Linked DNA regions of Homo sapiens: region 2 is linked to region 1. A link means that fine-mapping ties the variant in region 1 to the expression of a gene that starts in the linked region. Tissue or cell type: tibial nerve. Region 1 holds a variant in brackets; the other region holds the start of a gene. All regions are shown on one strand. Distances are from middle to middle.

What was found. PIP is the estimated chance that this variant, and not a neighbour inherited with it, causes the effect.
Region 2: PIGH starts here. The variant in region 1 is fine-mapped to the expression of PIGH in tibial nerve (GTEx, PIP 0.91).

Annotation. Positions count from the first base shown.
Region 1 is chr14:67,571,103-67,579,280 of GRCh38, reverse strand. It overlaps PLEKHH1 (pleckstrin homology, MyTH4 and FERM domain containing H1), which reads right to left. Exons shown (of 29, transcript NM_020715.3): 10 at 7,379-7,529; 11 at 7,004-7,146; 12 at 5,895-6,005; 13 at 5,394-5,480; 14 at 4,878-5,039; 15 at 3,809-3,889; 16 at 3,276-3,458; 17 at 2,778-2,886; 18 at 1,867-1,979; 19 at 1,082-1,258; 20 at 650-747; 21 at 1-147. It also overlaps a transcript of GPHN not described here. Among named protein-coding and RNA genes, the nearest start is that of PIGH, 25 kb to the left of the region's middle. RefSeq lists an enhancer at 7,635-7,814. The variant C/T (reference allele first, on the strand shown) is at 5,073.
Region 2 is chr14:67,596,827-67,605,004 of GRCh38, reverse strand. PIGH (phosphatidylinositol glycan anchor biosynthesis class H) reads left to right here and starts at 4,737. Exons shown (of 4, transcript NM_004569.5): 1 at 4,737-4,981. The coding sequence starts at 4,802. It also overlaps a transcript of GPHN not described here. RefSeq lists an enhancer at 4,740-5,059.

The sequences.
Region 1 (8,178 bases):
ATGCTGAAGGGCAAGGAGTGGTGGAAGGGGTTACGCAGCAGGATGGACACCACTTCCATGCGCGATGGCCTGGCTTCCCGCTCCCCGGTCCGCAGGGTCCGCTCCACTGCCCGCTGGCAGTAGGTGGCATACTGGCCAGTTTCACTTCTAAAAAGACGGAAGAGGGGAGTATTATGGGCTCTGCTCATCTCTGCCACTTTGGCACCCCGGATCCCTATCTAGACTCAGCCAGGACCAAAACTGTAGCTGGGGCAGGTTGTGAGAAAAGCCCTGAAGACTCTGGTCTGGGACATTAATTTGTCATTCAGGACCTTTATATAGCAGGTTGCTGGCATGGATATTTTCTTCTAGAACCCAGAGGACATAACAACAGAATAGCACTTGGGGACAGTTTGGGAGCAGTGTGGCTTCATGTGAGAGTTGCCACAGTACATCCGTGGATACATGGATTGGCGTGCAGAGAAGCTTAAGCATGCCCAGATCCACACGTGCCCATTTGTGCACACGGCAATGGGTGAAGTCTCCACGACCACTGAGCGGTTTCAGAGGACAGGAGTGATCTGGTCTGCCCTAGACTCCTCTCATCCCTCTTATTCATGCGGCAGTTGGCAGTGCTCAAGTGGCAGAGGAAACGGCCAGGTTCACTCACCTGGGATCTGCATGGCGTTGGAGCTGCTGCTTGACATACCAGAGGAAGTGATGCTGAGGCAGGAAAAGTGGAGCACACAGAGCGAGGAGCTGCCAGCACTGCCAGGGACACAGACAGCGTGGGGTGAGTGCTGGGCCTACAGCACCACCTGTCCTCATAGCCCTGAGCTACAGAGCCTTCAGCACTCTTTCCCCAAACCAGAGCCCCCAACTTGCTCTGGGTGCTGGGATGGCCAACTTGGTCAGGCTGTGTCCAGAATGCAATCACCCATCTGTGCATAGACAGCTCAGCCGTACTGATGCAGCTTGGAGCACAGAGGCTGCCCGCTGGCTGGGCTCACCGTATACCTGCCCAGTCACCTCCTCCCACCTTTCCCACCTGGCAGCCCTTGCCAATGGCTTCTGTCAGCTGCTCCACCCCTGGCATGCCTACCTGCATGAGGGAGTACTTCTGAGGTGGGCGGCAGCTGGTCTGCTTCATGAGTTGGCAGTAGATCTCACTCTGCAGCTCGGGGTGAACCAGGCAGACCTGCAGTGCGGTCTGGGCCAGGGACACATGGTAGTCCACCGAGGCAGCTTCCACCGGCACGTTGATGAAGAGCTGGCAGGACTGGGAGGGAACAGCAGTGAGCACAGGCAGACCAGCATCCCCTGGGTTCAGAGAACTCAACGGCTTGGCCATTTTCCAAGGGCTCCAGGGAGGTTAGAGTTTACTGACAGCCCTTTCTAAGAGGGAGCACTGCTACTGTTGGAGGGCATCTCTGCTTACTAAAAGGGGCTATGGGCTACTTTGGGATAGAAGTTTCCTTTTTAAAATGTTCTCATTACATTACATAAACAAGACAAATTCCTTAAAAAAAACAAAAACAAAAACAGAAAACTCAAACATTCACAAAGGACATGCTAAAATAGGTCCGAATCTCTCAGTCCAGAAGCAACATAAACCTCGCCTTTTCTGCTTAACTACAGGAGGAGGGGAGCTCCTCCAGGGAGAGTTTTCATTGGCATTTCCCAAGGACTTGTGCATGACGTTCCAGAGCTGCTTCCCTCCCAGTGACAGGATTACATTCCTGCCATCCAGGAAGTGATAGGGACCCTGGGAAGTTTCCTTCCCTTCCTCTCCAGATCCCTCTGTGGGTTGTCCCCAACTGCACAGGCCTTCTCCACCCAAGTATTGCAAGTATCCCAGCGGTGGGCCTGGCCGCCACCCCAATTTACCTTGAAGAGCTTGAGGGCCTCCGTCTGCAAGGCCTCAGAGGGCAGGGTGGTGAGGGAGGCGTATAGGCCGTCTTTGCTGTAGCACAGCATGGGGTGCCTCCAGAGCGGCGAATCTGCCCAAAGCACGGAACCAGAGAGCAAGGGCAGTTACTACTGAGAGGGGACTCATCTCCCACTCACCGCCATCTTTAATTTATGGGGAAGATAGTGGTTTATCTTCCGTCAACACTTGGGTTGTGCTGGGTTTATCATCCATAGAGTGTGGGGTGTACAGGTGGGCACTGCAATGAGCACCCTCATATAAGCATGGCCTTTCTCGTGGAATGGCAGTAGGGGTGAGTGTGCAAGGTTGTGGGTGTCTGAGTGCAGGTGGATGTGTGCAGGGGAGGCCTCTTTCTTACTGTGTCAAGTCTGGATGGAGGGGCATATGAATTGGTCAGAAACAAACAAGCCTCAGAGCAGTAGTAAAGGGGTGTGTGTGGTATATGCCATTAATTAGTTCCTCAGGGCCCTGATAATCAGTAGCAAAAGAAAGACTCCAAACAGGTTAGTCCGATCCCAATTTAGGCTTCACTTGTTGATTTACAAACTCTAACTATAGATTAACCAGCTACCTTCTTTCCTCAGCCCTCTGCCCAGCCAGCAACGGGGCAGCTTGATCCAAGTAAAACATTTACCCAGGTCCCTGGAAAGCCTGCTTCCCAGATAAACTCCCCCAGATGCAGAGTGGTCACCTTAGTATCTCAGCCGGAGACAGAGGGGCCCTGGAGCTTGGATGGGAACTTCCCCTCTGTGGCTTAGATGTTTTAAAAACAGCTTCAGGGTACAACACTGCTTTCTTTGGGATCTTGACCAATAGTCACCAAGCCACTACCCTCCAACCCAAGCAGTGGTGGCCACCCTTGCCTTACCTGGATCTCCTTCACCATCCATCAGTTTTCCAATGAGCTGCTCATAGGCAGTGCCCACCTTGGCACTGCTGCCACCTGCAGCCACTGTGAGGTGGTAGAGCCACGTATCCTGGAAGAGGGCGGAAAGCCATCGGATGGGGACGGGGTGGGAAGAGTGGAGGCAAGAGCTCCAAGGAGGACTCCTTGAAGGGACCAAGCCCATGTGGGGTTCAGCTAGTTTGGTTGGCATGAGTCAGGGCTACCTGGAAAGACTGAGGATCAGGTGAACATGAACCCAACTTTCCAAATTTGCGATTCTATTACATGACCTCAGTGAAGCAATGTTGGTCACTGGGAATAAATTCAGTATAAAGGAATATTCCCATTCAGAGAATATTAGTTGCCAAAGTGTCCAAAAGGAAATAAATTTGAATTTTGGGAAGCTCAGGAGAAAGAGAGAAGGGAAGATCAGAATCACAGGTCCAAGCTTGGCCCTGGAGGCCCAGCCCTCTTCCTTACCTTTTCATGCTTGGTGCCAATGAGGAGGTAGGTGGGGCTGTGCTCTGTGGGGTGGATCACCAGGGTGCAGTGGGAGGAAAGCAACCGTCTGGTTCCTCCAGCCTCATAGTCCTCGTCTGAGTCACAGGATCGATCTACTTCCTCTATGTGCGCATCCCGCACAGGCAGGCAGCCCAGGGGTCGCTGTGGACAGCAGTCTTCCATGAATGGGAGAGCCAGTGGGGGATGAGGGAGTCTCCTCTCTCTGAATACATAGGCTCCGTGAAGCTGGGAATCGTGGATATGGACCGATGACAGGATGGGGAGGTGGAGACTATAGCATCCCAGCCAGGCTGGCAGCAGAATGAGGCTTGCTTGGAGAAGCACCAGAGACCCAGACAGGCAGAATCTCACACTCTGGAGGGATCCAGCCAACTGATTTTGTATTTATTGTGGGGTTACGTGGGGTAGGGACTTTCATCAGGACATAGAGTGGCAGTCATGTGCTTCGGGGGAAGCAGGAGAGTGGGTATTGTGAGGAGGCTGAGAAGTACCTTGTCCTCATGGCTCCGATAGTAGTAGAAGATTTTCCCAACAAGAGCGCACCAGACCACCTTGGAGTGGCCATGCTTTACCTGTAAGACAGAAATGAACTGGCATTATGAGAACTAGGTAACTCTAGAAGTAAATCCAGGACTGGCAAATAGAAGCCACAGGGAGACAGATTTGACCTATGGTAGAGATGGAGATGCCATTTGGGCTCCCTACTAATGGAACCACCCCTTTCACAGTGAGGGTGCCATGACACCCTGTGGCACCCCAGCCATCATGGGCTATTCAGTGACCTATGACCTGCCATGAAACGATTAGCCAGGCCAATCAGATGTCCCCTCCAGGCATATGAAAATAGGAAGAACTTGCTAGGTGGCAGAAGCCACAGTTGTCAGGGTGCCGGGAGGGAGGGAGGGAAAACAGCAGGCTGAAGCCCTTGGGCAACCATGCATCATGAAGGAACAGAAGCTGCACACGGGCGAAGGAGAATGACATAAACAGATTGAACGAGAAGCAGAGCCACACAGCGAGCCTGCCAGCCCTGAGCTTGCTGAGTGCAAGTCGCTTTGGTTCCTGCTGGTGTTCTGGTCTAGCTAATGTACTTCCTTGTTAACTTCCATTTTCTTGGGTTTAACAACTGCTTCTCTGCTCTGTTCAACCAGAAGAGCCCTAACAAAAATGTCTTTAGGGCAGGCCTGGGATACTTTAAGTCTTTGAGGAGCCATACCTACCTCGCCCAGGCCTCTTCCTCCCACTATTAACACTGAGGCAGGTATAAGGTGGGGGTGGGTGACAGCCCCTAATGACCTCAAAATGGATACAAGATAGTCCCTTCCCTTCTCTTTCTTGAGAATAGTTGTTCCAACAACCCTGATTTGTTTCCGGGGAATCACTCGCCATCACCTTGTGTGGCCAGACCACGTTTGAGGGCTGGCCAGCGAGTCACTGTGAGGAGGCTCCCAGAGAAAGGAGCCCCGTATAAGGGGGAACCCACCACCCTCGGCACCCCAATCCTGGCTCCCCTGATTCGCAGGAGGCACATGTTCCTGCCCTATCAGCCCCACCCTCTACCTTGGTCAGCCAGCCCTTCACGGTGGGCTTGGTGCCACCCCGAAGCAGAGCTGGAGGCCCGGTGGCCTGCACCTTCAGCAGGCTCTGGAGTACTCGGATCCACTCCTCCAGCAGGCTGGGTGAATCGGCCGTCAGGTAGTAGGTTTTCTTCTCAGAGATGAGCTGTGGAGGGCGAGATATGGGGGTGGGGCAGCA[C/T]GCTGGGAGAATGGAGTAACCAGGACCTGGCTCCGAGGTGGCACCTGTCCCTGAACCCAAGGGGCTGGCCTTCTGCCTGCCCTAGTGCTCCCTCCTTTCTTTTCCTCCTCATCTTTTCCTCCCTGTCTCTCCTTCCTTCACTCCATCTCTCATATTCTGTCTCATCTTCCTTTCTTGTACTCACAAGTTAGGATCACGTCCAAATGTTGATCTGAAGTCTTTCATTCATGCTCATTTGGCCCCATCTTTGTCTCACTCACGGCCATATCCAAACCCAGCACCTCTTCTGTTTAAAATACTAGCAGCCAGGAGCGTGCTCACCTGAAACGTCTGTGAACCCTCCCCTCGAACAATTTGGCAGCGGGAGTTCAGATCCACTTGGCCTTGAGGTTTCCGGATGACATCACTCTGTAAAGAAAGTATTGGAGAGGAGAGCCACTGAATGTGGAGCCTTTCCGGAGCACCTCATTTACCCTCAGATCTTCCTCCACGTCATAAGCAAAGGGAAACATGATTCCCAGCATTCTGGCTGTGTTATGATGGGTGACTTATTCTAGATTCTGGTTATAGCTAAATGGAACCTTAATCAGGAACATGGGTCCTTCTGAGAACCTCCCTATTTCATTCTGAAACTCACGGCCAGGCTTAGGTCCCCAAGTGTGGCTCAAAGCCTCAGGGGCCCAGTGAGGTTGCCTCTCCCCACCTGCCAGACCTTTGCCCTCTGGCCTTGGGCCACATTCCCCCTCCTCCGTCCCATCTGACATAGTCCAGGGTGTGATGTGGAGACCTTTTGACTGCAGTGCTGGGCGGGGAGACTCTCACCGGGGACTTGTAGTACATAATCTGTCCCTGTCTCAGGACAAACCAGCGCCTCTTCCACGTCTTCACCTGGCTCCCCATTTTCAGCAGGTAGCCCGACTTCTCCAGTGACTCCTGAGGGGTGGAAGGGTGTAGATGAAGAAAGGGGAAATCACTCAGGGCTCCTAGACATCACACAGGTCCAAGTGGTCCAGCTGCCTCACTACTCGGTCATCAATTAAATACAAAATTATTGAGTACCTACTCAGTGTATTTTCAGAGTACCATGCCCTGCTATGGTTCAGAGAGGACTAAATAAAACATGGGTGGTCCTGCCAAGGAAGGGCTCCCATGCTAGCTGGGGAAGACCTCACTATGAGAAGGTAGCAGAGCAGGGGCTGCTAGAGGGAGAGCCTGGCCAGGGAGAGCGTCAGGAGAGAGCCGGCCCTGAGCTGGCCTTGTTAGGATAGTTCAGCCTCTCCCTCAAAGACTGAGAGGAGGAAGAAGACCATTCCAGGCAGCACAGAGCAGGGAGAGGGCAAGGCAGGTCTGGGCAACCTGGACACATCAGCCAGGCAGGACTGGAGGGTCATGGAGCCAGGGAGATGATGGGGCAGCAGAGAGGTGTGGGGCGAGGGATGCGGAATTACATCGGGAGTGGATGCTAGCCCTGGCATGTAGTGGCACAGCTTGGAGCCTCAGGCTTCTCATCCATAAGATGGGCTAATGACCCCAAGAGGATTGTGAGGACAAATGAGACAATGCCTGGAAACTGAGCACAGTGCCTGGTGCCAAGAGTTCAATAAATGTTAGCTTGCGTTAGTATTCCAGGTGATAAAACAAAGTCATATATGGAAAACTCTTCATGGGGCCTGGTGGGCCACAGTAGGCTCTCAGTAACTGGCCATTGCTGGTATTCCAGGAGCTCTCTGGGCTCCCTCCTTCCTTCCTTGTGGGGTCTGTGTGTCTGACTCCATAACTGTACACCCCCCCAGCCCACGCCCCCTGCCCCCATCCCCCAGCTCTAGGGACCCCTCACTTCAGGCAGCTACTGCCTATGTCTTGTGCTGAGGGCCCCAGCAGCCTCTGCTGCATTCTGCTTCCACCCTGCCCCCGCCCGTTTCCCGGCTCACCCCGCCCAGGCCCAGCCCGTCGGTGGAGTAGGATGAGGTGCGCTGCAGTTTGTGCTCAGGCTCTGAGTAGTCACTGTCCAGTGAGCAGGCGTCCGGGGGGATGGCGTAGTCACCCTCGGAGCTCAGTGAGGACATGGAGACGCCTTGCCGAGGGAGGAGGAGTCAAGGCCCGGGTCCCACACCTCCCCGACTCACGCAGCCCAGGAGCTGCTGAGACTTGACCACCCACCCGGGACCCGGTCTCTGGGGCTGGGGGTGGAGCTGCTGGGGGGTCACGAGCTCAGATCAAGTGGGGACGCCCATGTTCAAGTGCCCATGGGAAGAGGTGAGGGGCTCCTTGCTGCTGCACCCTGCCCCTGCTCCCCTTCTCTGTACCTCTCTTGATGGCCCGGGGGCTGCCTAGTCCGCTGGTCTTCCTGGACTCAGAGGAGGGGACCGAGATTCGGAAACTCGCCTGAGAGCTGCAGTCATCGTCAGACCCAGAGGACTCGTCCATAAAGGGCATGTTGCTGATCTGTGTAGCTCTCTGCAAGACAGGCCCCTCCCTCACTGCAGCTCAGGCTGCAAAACAGTCCTCTCCCAACCCTGCAGCTTGCACTCCTGGTCCAAGTGCCCATGGTGTGGCCAACCCCCAGCCGGGACTCTGAACAGACAACTGTCCAGTGTAAGGTCCCTCCTGGCCTCACTCCTGTGTCATGACCTCCATGCTTCTCAGGCCTCCCTTCCCACACACCATCTTCTGTGGTCCCCAAAGCAGCTGCCCATCACGACTGAATGCCTGCCCACTGTGACCCTCGCTCCTTGCCACTAGGGGGCCAGAAAGCTACACCACAGACTAAGTGTGCCATGCGAGCTTTAAAAATGTGTGGGGACGTCGCAACAATCAATGATTGCATCTCCATTGGCAAACATTTAAAGTGACTGACTATCTCAGTGTTGGTGAGAGTATGGGGAGAAGATGGGGGAAAAAACTCTAGTGTGTAAGGCATTTTTAGAAGGTAATTTGGCAGTACCTGTCAAAAATTAAAACATGTATATAATTTGCCCAGAAATCCCACCTCTAGAACTCTGTCCTACAGACACATGTAGATATAAGTTCCCAAAGATATATGTGCACAGTGATGTTCATGGCAACATTCATTTTAGAGAAAAACAGGGACACAGACTAAATTATT
Region 2 (8,178 bases), 26 kb before region 1:
AATTGAGACAGGTTGCTATTAGCACAAGGGAAGACAAAATAGAACAACAGAACATAATAGAGAGTGTGGAAATAGACCGAGAAATTTGTGGTCACCTATTTACAACAAAGGCACTATCTCAATTAGGGGGGAAGGGTAGTCTTTTCAACACGTGCTGCTGGGAAACAAAATGACCCTTAACCTCTACAAACAAAAATTAGTTCAAAATGGATCATTGGCTTAAATATGAAAGGTAAAATAATTAAGCTTCTAGGGAAAAAAAAGATAGGCAAAGTTTTTTTTGTTGTTGTTGTTTTGTTTGTTTTTTCTCGCTCTGTTACCCAGGCTGGAATGCAGTGGCTTGATCACAGCTTTTTGTAGCCTCCTACAGTAAGCTGGGCTTACTGGGCTCAAGCAACCCTTCTGCCTCAGCCTCCCTAGTACCTAGTAGCTGTGCCACCATGCCCAGCTTTTTGTTTTTTGTTTTTTGTTTGGTAGAGTCAGAGTCTCGCTATGTTGCCCAGCATGTTCTGGAACTCCTGAGCTCAAACGATCTTCCTGGCTCAGCCTCTCAAAGTGCTGGGATTATAGGCATGAGCCACCATGCCCGCAAGACAGGCAAAGCTTCCTAAACAGGACAAAATATTATACAACACTAGCCATAAAAGACAAGATTGATAAATTGGACTTTATGAAAATTAAAACCTCTGTTCATCAAAAGACACCATTAGAGTATGGAAAAGTAAGTCACAGACTGTTTTACTGCTTGGAGGATATACCTCAATTAAAACATTTCCTTAAATGGACAGATGAGGAGACTTCCATTTCTGAAAGATGGAACAGACATTCTTTGCCTATCCATCCCAGTAAGAAAGCTAAAACCTTTGCGCCTGTAATCCCAGCTACTTGGGAGGCTGAGGCACAAGAATCGCTTGAACCCAGGAGGTGGAAGTTGCAGTGAGTAGAGATTGTGCTACTGCACTCTTGCCTAGGCGACAGAGCAAGACTGTCTCAAAAAAAAAACAAAAACAAAAAACAAGGGCAGGGCTGGGAGCGGTGGCTCACGCCTATAATCCCAGCACTTTGAGAGGTTGAGGCGGGCAGATCACCTGAGGTCAGGAGTTTGAGACCAGCCTGACCAACATGGAGAAACCCCATCTCTACTAAAAATACAAAATTAGCTGGGCATGGTGGCGCATGCCTGTAATCCCAGCTACTTGGGAGGCTGACCTCAGCAGGAGAATCGCTTGAACCTGGAATGCGGAGGTTGTGGTGAGCCAAGATTGTGCCATTGCACTCCAGCCTGGGTAACAAGAGCAAAACTCCGTCTCAAACAAACAAACAACCCACAAAGCAGTAATAAGGATTTTAGTGACTGGGTGCAGTGGCTCATGCCTGCAATCCCAGCACTTTAGGAGGCCAAGGCAACAGGAACGCTTCAACCCAGGCATTCAAGGTCACAATGAGTTATGATTATACCACTGCACTGCAGCCTGAGTAACAGAGCAACACCCTCTCTCTAAAAAGAAAAAGGATTTTAGAGATCTTAGACTACCACAGTATTTATTCCTAATAATTGAGTATTTTTAAAAAATTAAGTAAAGTACATTTGGCCTTTTTCTTTCTATAACTCTATAATTGTGAAACTTCTTAGCCTGCTGGGCATGGTGACTCATGCCTGTAATCCCAACTCTTTGGGAGGCTGAGGCCGAAGGATCACCCGAGCCTAGGAGTTTGAAAATAGCCTGGGAAACATAGTGAGATGCCATTTCTACAAAATATGCAAAAATTAGCCTGATGTGGTAGAGTGTGCCTGTAGCCCTAGATACTTGAGGGGCTGAGGTGGGAGGATCTCTTTAGCCCAGGAAGTTGAGACTGCAGTGAGCCATGACCGTACCACTGCTGCACTCCGCTTTCGGTGACAGAGCAAGACCTTGCCTCAAACAAAACAAAACAAACCAGAAAGAAAGAAAAAGAAAAGAAACTTCTTAGCCTGTACAGGTACCTTTTGTATTGTAGACCCTCTGGAAGTTTGGCGAAATGAATGGACCCTTTATTATAATAATGCTTTAAAATGTATAAATACATAGGACTTCTAAGAAAATCAACTAAATTAAAATATGGTTATCAAAATATTTTAAAAATGTGTTACAGTGATATGTTTCTCTTTATTGACACATTAAATAATAATAGCTAGTGATGGGTTTAATAATTACTGCAATTTTGAAGTAGCAATGACTAGAAATGACATTTTGAAACAATTATTGTGAAAAGAAAATATCTGTGATTTCTGTCAGTGACAAAAATCACAAGCTCTACTAATACTAGTTTGTTGCCCATATTCATAATCAAAAGAAATGTTAAATTTTAATTAGAAGTTAATGAAACTAAAAATGAAACACTGATTCTATCCGTGGAGCCCAAGTTAAGAACTCCAGGACTACAGGCTTCCCCAAAACATTAACAGTACTTATCTCTGAGTGATGGAAATATGGGTGGTTTACATTTTTTTCTTTTCTGTATTTTTCAAATTTTCCACAATAAGCAAATATCACTTTTATAATTATAAAACACATGATATATGCAATAGTAAAAGGGGTGATATGGTTCGGCTCTCTGTGCCTACCCAAATCTCATGTCAAATTGTAATCTCCACTTGTTAGGGGAGGGACCCAGTGGGAGGTGATTGGATCATGGGGACGGATTTCCCCCATGCTGGTCTCGTGATGCTGAGTGAGTTCTCTCACGAGATCTGACGGTTTAAAAATGTGGCACTTCCCCACTCCCCTCCTGCTGCCATGTAAGACATGCCTGGCTTCCCCTTTGCCTTCCACCATTATTGTAAGTTTCCTGAGGCCTTGCCAGCCATGTGGAACTGTGAGTCAATAAACCTCTTTTCTTTATAAATTACCGAGTCTCAGGTAGTTCTTTATAGCAGTGTGAAAACGGACTAATAAAAGGAGTGTATTAATTGTCAGATTCGGGGCACAGAAATAAAACTAGAAAAATAAAGAAGTGCTTGAAGAAATCCTTTAGGAAAAAAGAAAGGGAAATAAAATTCTGAATGAAGATGAAGAAACGGAACCTTTCATCAGAGAGACTTAAAGCTGGTGAGACCTTTATGCCATGGATCTTTTTTTTTTTTTAAATGAATATAGACACAGTCTTGCTCTGTTGCCCAGGCTGGTCTTGAACTCCTAAGTTCAAGTGATTCTCCTGCCTCAGCCACCCGAACAGCTGGGATTACAGGCATGCTCCACCATGCCCAGGTAATTTTTTTGTATTTTTAGTAGAGATGGTTTCACCATGTTGGCCAGGCTGATCTTGAACTCCTGACCCAAGTGATCTGCCCTCCTCAGCCTCCCAAAGTGCTGAGATTACAGGCATGTGCCACCATGCCCAGCCCATCACAAGTGTTTTGACAGTCCACATAGCCACTCCTGGGCCACATCAGAAGTAAAAATGGAACTCATAGGCCACTATTACTCATGAGTTTAGTAATTTTATTATCCATTTCTTCTGCATCTCCCGCTCCTGCTTAATTCCCAGCCAGGTCTTGCCTGTCTACCACGGTCCAAGCAGTCATTTGGGAGACAGAACTCCCAGGCAGTGAAATCCAAACTCCTTACCAGACCCTACAAGACCCTCTTGGATCTGACCCCTACCTGCCTCCCCAGCTTCCAACTGTTTTCCCCACACACCAACCTTTCTCGCCTTTTGATTATTTCATTAAGCCAAGCTTGTTCCAACTTCGAGGGGTTTGCCTTTCCTGGTCTTTCTTTCTGGCAAATTCCTCCTCCAGAGCTCCTTCAGTCCTGTCTGGCTCGTCACCCTTGTAACTCAGTGTCCTCTTACTTAGAGACTTCGCCTGACTGCCCTATGTAAAGTCCTCAGTCCATCCCTGCCAGTCAGCATAGTATTGCCAACGATACTCTCTTATTTCCATATTGTCTCCTACTAGAAAGGAAGCTGCCCGAGGGCAGAGACTGTCATCAACATCGTTCACTGCTGCATCCTCAAGCACCTCAAACTACCCGGCACAGGAAAAGAGTAAGTGAAATGAATACCCGTGGGCTCTCCTTGCGGCTCACTCTGGCTTAGAGAAATCGGCTTGCCAAGCAAAAGCATGATTAAAACTGTGGGTTTGGGCTGGGTGCGGTGGCTCACGCCTGTAATCCCAGCACTTCGGGAGGCCGAGGCGGGCGAATCACCTGAGGTCAGGAGTTTGAGACCAACCTGGCCAACATGGTGAAACCTGTCTCTACTAAAAATACAAAAATCAGCAGGGCGTGGTGGCGCGCGCCTGTAATCCCAGCTACTCAGGAGGCTTAGGCAGGAGAATCGCTTGAACCCGGGGGAAGCAGGTTGCAGTGAGCCGACGTCGCGCCATTCCGTCTCAAAACAAAAACAAACTGTGGGTTTGTTTTGAGACAGGGTCTTGCTCTCTCGCACAGGCTAGAGAGCAGGGGCATGATCTCCGCTCACTGCAACCTCGACCTCCCAGGCTCAAGCGATCCTCCCGCCTTGGCCTCCCAGTGCTGGACTACAGGCCTGAGTCAACGCGCCCGGTCTAAAAACGATTTTAATCTTTCCACTTAACTATTGCCCCGACGAGGTTTTTTCGAAGACAGTCAAGGCCGGCCCGGAAGAACGCACAACCATCAGCCCCCAGCAGAGCTCTCGGCGCGCAACTGAGGCTGCGCAGGCTTAGGGCGGGGCGTGGTGACGCGGCTGCCGGAAGCGGGTCTGGAGCGGGCGAGACGGCCAGGGCCGGCGAGCGCAGTGCAGCGCCGCGCGGTGCGGGCGGCCGAGTGGGGGCGTCATGGAGGATGAGCGGAGCTTTTCGGATATCTGCGGCGGCCGCCTGGCGCTGCAGCGCCGCTACTACTCCCCGTCCTGCCGGGAATTCTGCCTCAGCTGCCCTCGGCTCTCGCTGCGTTCGCTCACCGCTGTCACCTGCACGGTGTGGCTGGCGGCCTACGGACTCTTCACCCTCTGCGAGGTAATGGCAAGTCGGCCCCTCCCCGCGCTCGAAGGAGGGGGTTCGGCTTTGGGAGGGTCTTTGGGGTCTTTGGTCGAGCCCGGACCTCTGGTCGGCCCCTCCTACAGTGATAGGACAGGAGGGCGGGAACTCACGGGTTCTGGGGACGATATTCCGCTGCTGGACAGCTCTTTAAATGACGTTTAGTGAAATGTGTGCTCCTGGATAGTACATTCCCCTTCCGTGGCTGTGCTCTGCTCCGTGGGTTCACTCAGCATACATCTAGTTCTTGCGCGACGGCCTAAAACTTTAACTGCCATGTGTTCTATGTAGTATAGGCGCGCAGTAATTTAATTCCAAGAGTTCAAGGAACTACTAAGTGGGTCTTCCTCGTCCATCCCTTCTGCTCCTCAAAGTAGTACTGCTAACAATACTTTACGTAGACTTCCACAAACTGTCTTTGCCTCCACAAGTGTGTGTGTTTATCTGTGTGTATAGATAGAGTGTTATAGTTCTTCCTAATCTCTGTTTTTCAAGGGAGTTTTTTAACCCTCCCTCCTCCCAAACCCTTCCCCAATTTCAAGTACTTTCTAAAGGTTTATGAAATTTTGGACGTGTGTGATAGCTGTGCTCAATTTCCAGATTCATTCCTGTTTTCTCTGAGCCTCAATTTTCTACATCTCTAAAATAGAATTCATGCCTGCCATACCAGCTTCATGATATTGTGAGGGTTAAATGCAGTAACTTTGTGACAGCTCTCAAATAAAAAGAATTATCCTAATTTTCAGGATAAGTTCTAGTTTCATATGTAGTGCCTGAATTGAATGTATTATCCCAGAAGTGATCTAATCAGAGCTAAGTACAGCAGGGCTATTTATTTTTGTAACTTGGATATTGTTTCCATTACTGCATCCATTCGCTTTTTTGCTGTCAAAGCGTGTTTCAGAGCATGGTAATTTAGCATAGAAATATGCAGAATTAAGACTGCCCTAATTGCAGGAAACTATCTAACTATCTAAACCGTATGTTTGTTCAGGCAAAGCACTGTACCTCACGCCTGTAATCCCAGCACTTTGGGAAGCTGAGGCGGGCGGATCACTTGAGGTCTGGAGTTGGAGACCAGCCTGGCCAACATGGTGAAACCACGTCTCTACGAAAAATTCAAACATTAGCTGGGTGTGGTGGTGCACGCTTGTAGTCTCAGCCACTCGGAAGGCTCAGGCGGGAGAATCGCTTGAACCTGGGAGGTGGAGGTAGCAGTGAGCCGAGATCACGCCACTGCACTCCAGCCTGGGCAACAGAGGGAGACTCTGTCTCAAAAAAAAAAAAAAGTTTGTTCATAAGTCAGTTAAAATGATGATTAAGTTGACTTGATAGCCCCCCTAAAATTTAATTTATTGTATAGTTGAATTTTAGTACTAGCCTGAGTTCTTATAGCCTATGTATGTGGTCATGTGAGGAGGAGGAAATAGATATTTATTAAATGCCCACTGACTGCCAGATGCTTTACTGAATTCCTTACTTTAGCCCTAGAACGAAGGAAACCAAGGCTCACAAAGAGCAATGACTTATCCAAAGTCTCAAAGCAGTAAATGGCAGATCTGGGCTTCAAACCAAGGGCTTTCTGACTCTGAGACCCTTTCTTTTCCTTTATACCATTGTATAGCTGATCTTAGGCAAAATTTAAAAACAAAAGCCTGCTTTTATGCCAGGTCCCTTCTGTACTTGTCTCTCTCATGCCGGTGTACTCTGCTTACCCCCATCAAGTACCCGAGGAATCAGTGACCGCATCTTCCTTTAAACTCTACTGCAACACTTTCTAAGGGCTCTGTGTGCCAAAATTTCTTACCTTTCCTATTCAAAACTGTTTATGAGAGTAATGAATATCTGGAATGAGAAGAAATCTGATTGAAGGAATTCATTCAAACATACAGCTTAACCCCAACCCAAATTAATATTGAATTGTTTGAATTCTACACAGAAAAATGAAGTTGAAAAAAATGCAGATAGTAGGGCACGGATTGCTTTTATTGGAAAGCTGACATGGATCAAATCCTTAAGGATTTATTGTTCTTCATCCCTTCATTCCTTCTTGTTTTTGAGTTCACAGTTCTATTAAAGTTCCAGGTTGTTCCCTTGTTTATTCCAACCTGGAATGTTCTTCCCCCTTCCCTTTCAACTAATTATATTGGTCACTAACCACCACTTCCCCTACACCAATTAAATCCTGTTTCCTTGGATGTGATGGGATATTCCTGTGTGCTTTAATGTCTTTTTTTTTTTTAAACTTTTCTTTTGGCACTTATAGTCAGTATCAGAGTATCCTCCAGAATATTTTCTATGTATTAATCTTGCCTTTAATACATCTATAAGGGTCAGGGCTGAATTGTATTCCTCTCCATTCTTCTTAATGCTTATTCAATGCAATTAATTAACTCAAAATTAGATCTTTCTGGATCATCAGAGACCCAGTACTGAATCCTCCATTCATCAATCAACAAATAATTATCTAGCACAGAGATAAGCAAACTTTTTTTTTTTTTGAGACAGGTTTCTTTGTTTTTTTTGAGACAGGTTCTCACTCTGTTGCCCAGGCTGGAGTGTAGTGGTGTGAATACCCCTCACTACAGCCTCAGTCTCCTGGACTCAAGCGATCCTCTTATCTCAGCCACCTGAGTAGCTGGGACTACAGGCATGTGCCACCACACCTGGCTAATTTTTGTATTTTTTGTAGAGACAGGGTCTCACTAGGTTGCCCAGGCTGGTCTTGAACTCCTGGCCTCAAGCGATCCCCCCATGTTGGCCTCCCAAAGTGTTGGGATTATAGGCATGAGCCACCATGCCTGGCCCAAACATTTTCATTAAAAGACTAGATAGTAAATATAGCAGGTTCTGTGGGGTCTGTCTCATAATATTCTTTTCTTTCTTTCTACAACCCTGTAAAAACTTAAAAATCATTCTTTGCTTGAGATGGGCCAGACAAAACCAGACCACAGGCCCAAATAGTTTACAGATCCCTGATCTAACACTATGGGTTAACTATGAAAAAGTAGAAAGAGACCATCAAAGAAAACCAGAGCTAGTGAGTAGTTGAAGTGGTACAAAAACCAGATGTTATTCAGGAACTATTACAGTAGGGGAAAAGAGACTTCAGTATAGACTTCCAAATTTCCTCAGTTCCGAATATAGCATGGACAAGTGGAGATTTATAGCCAAGG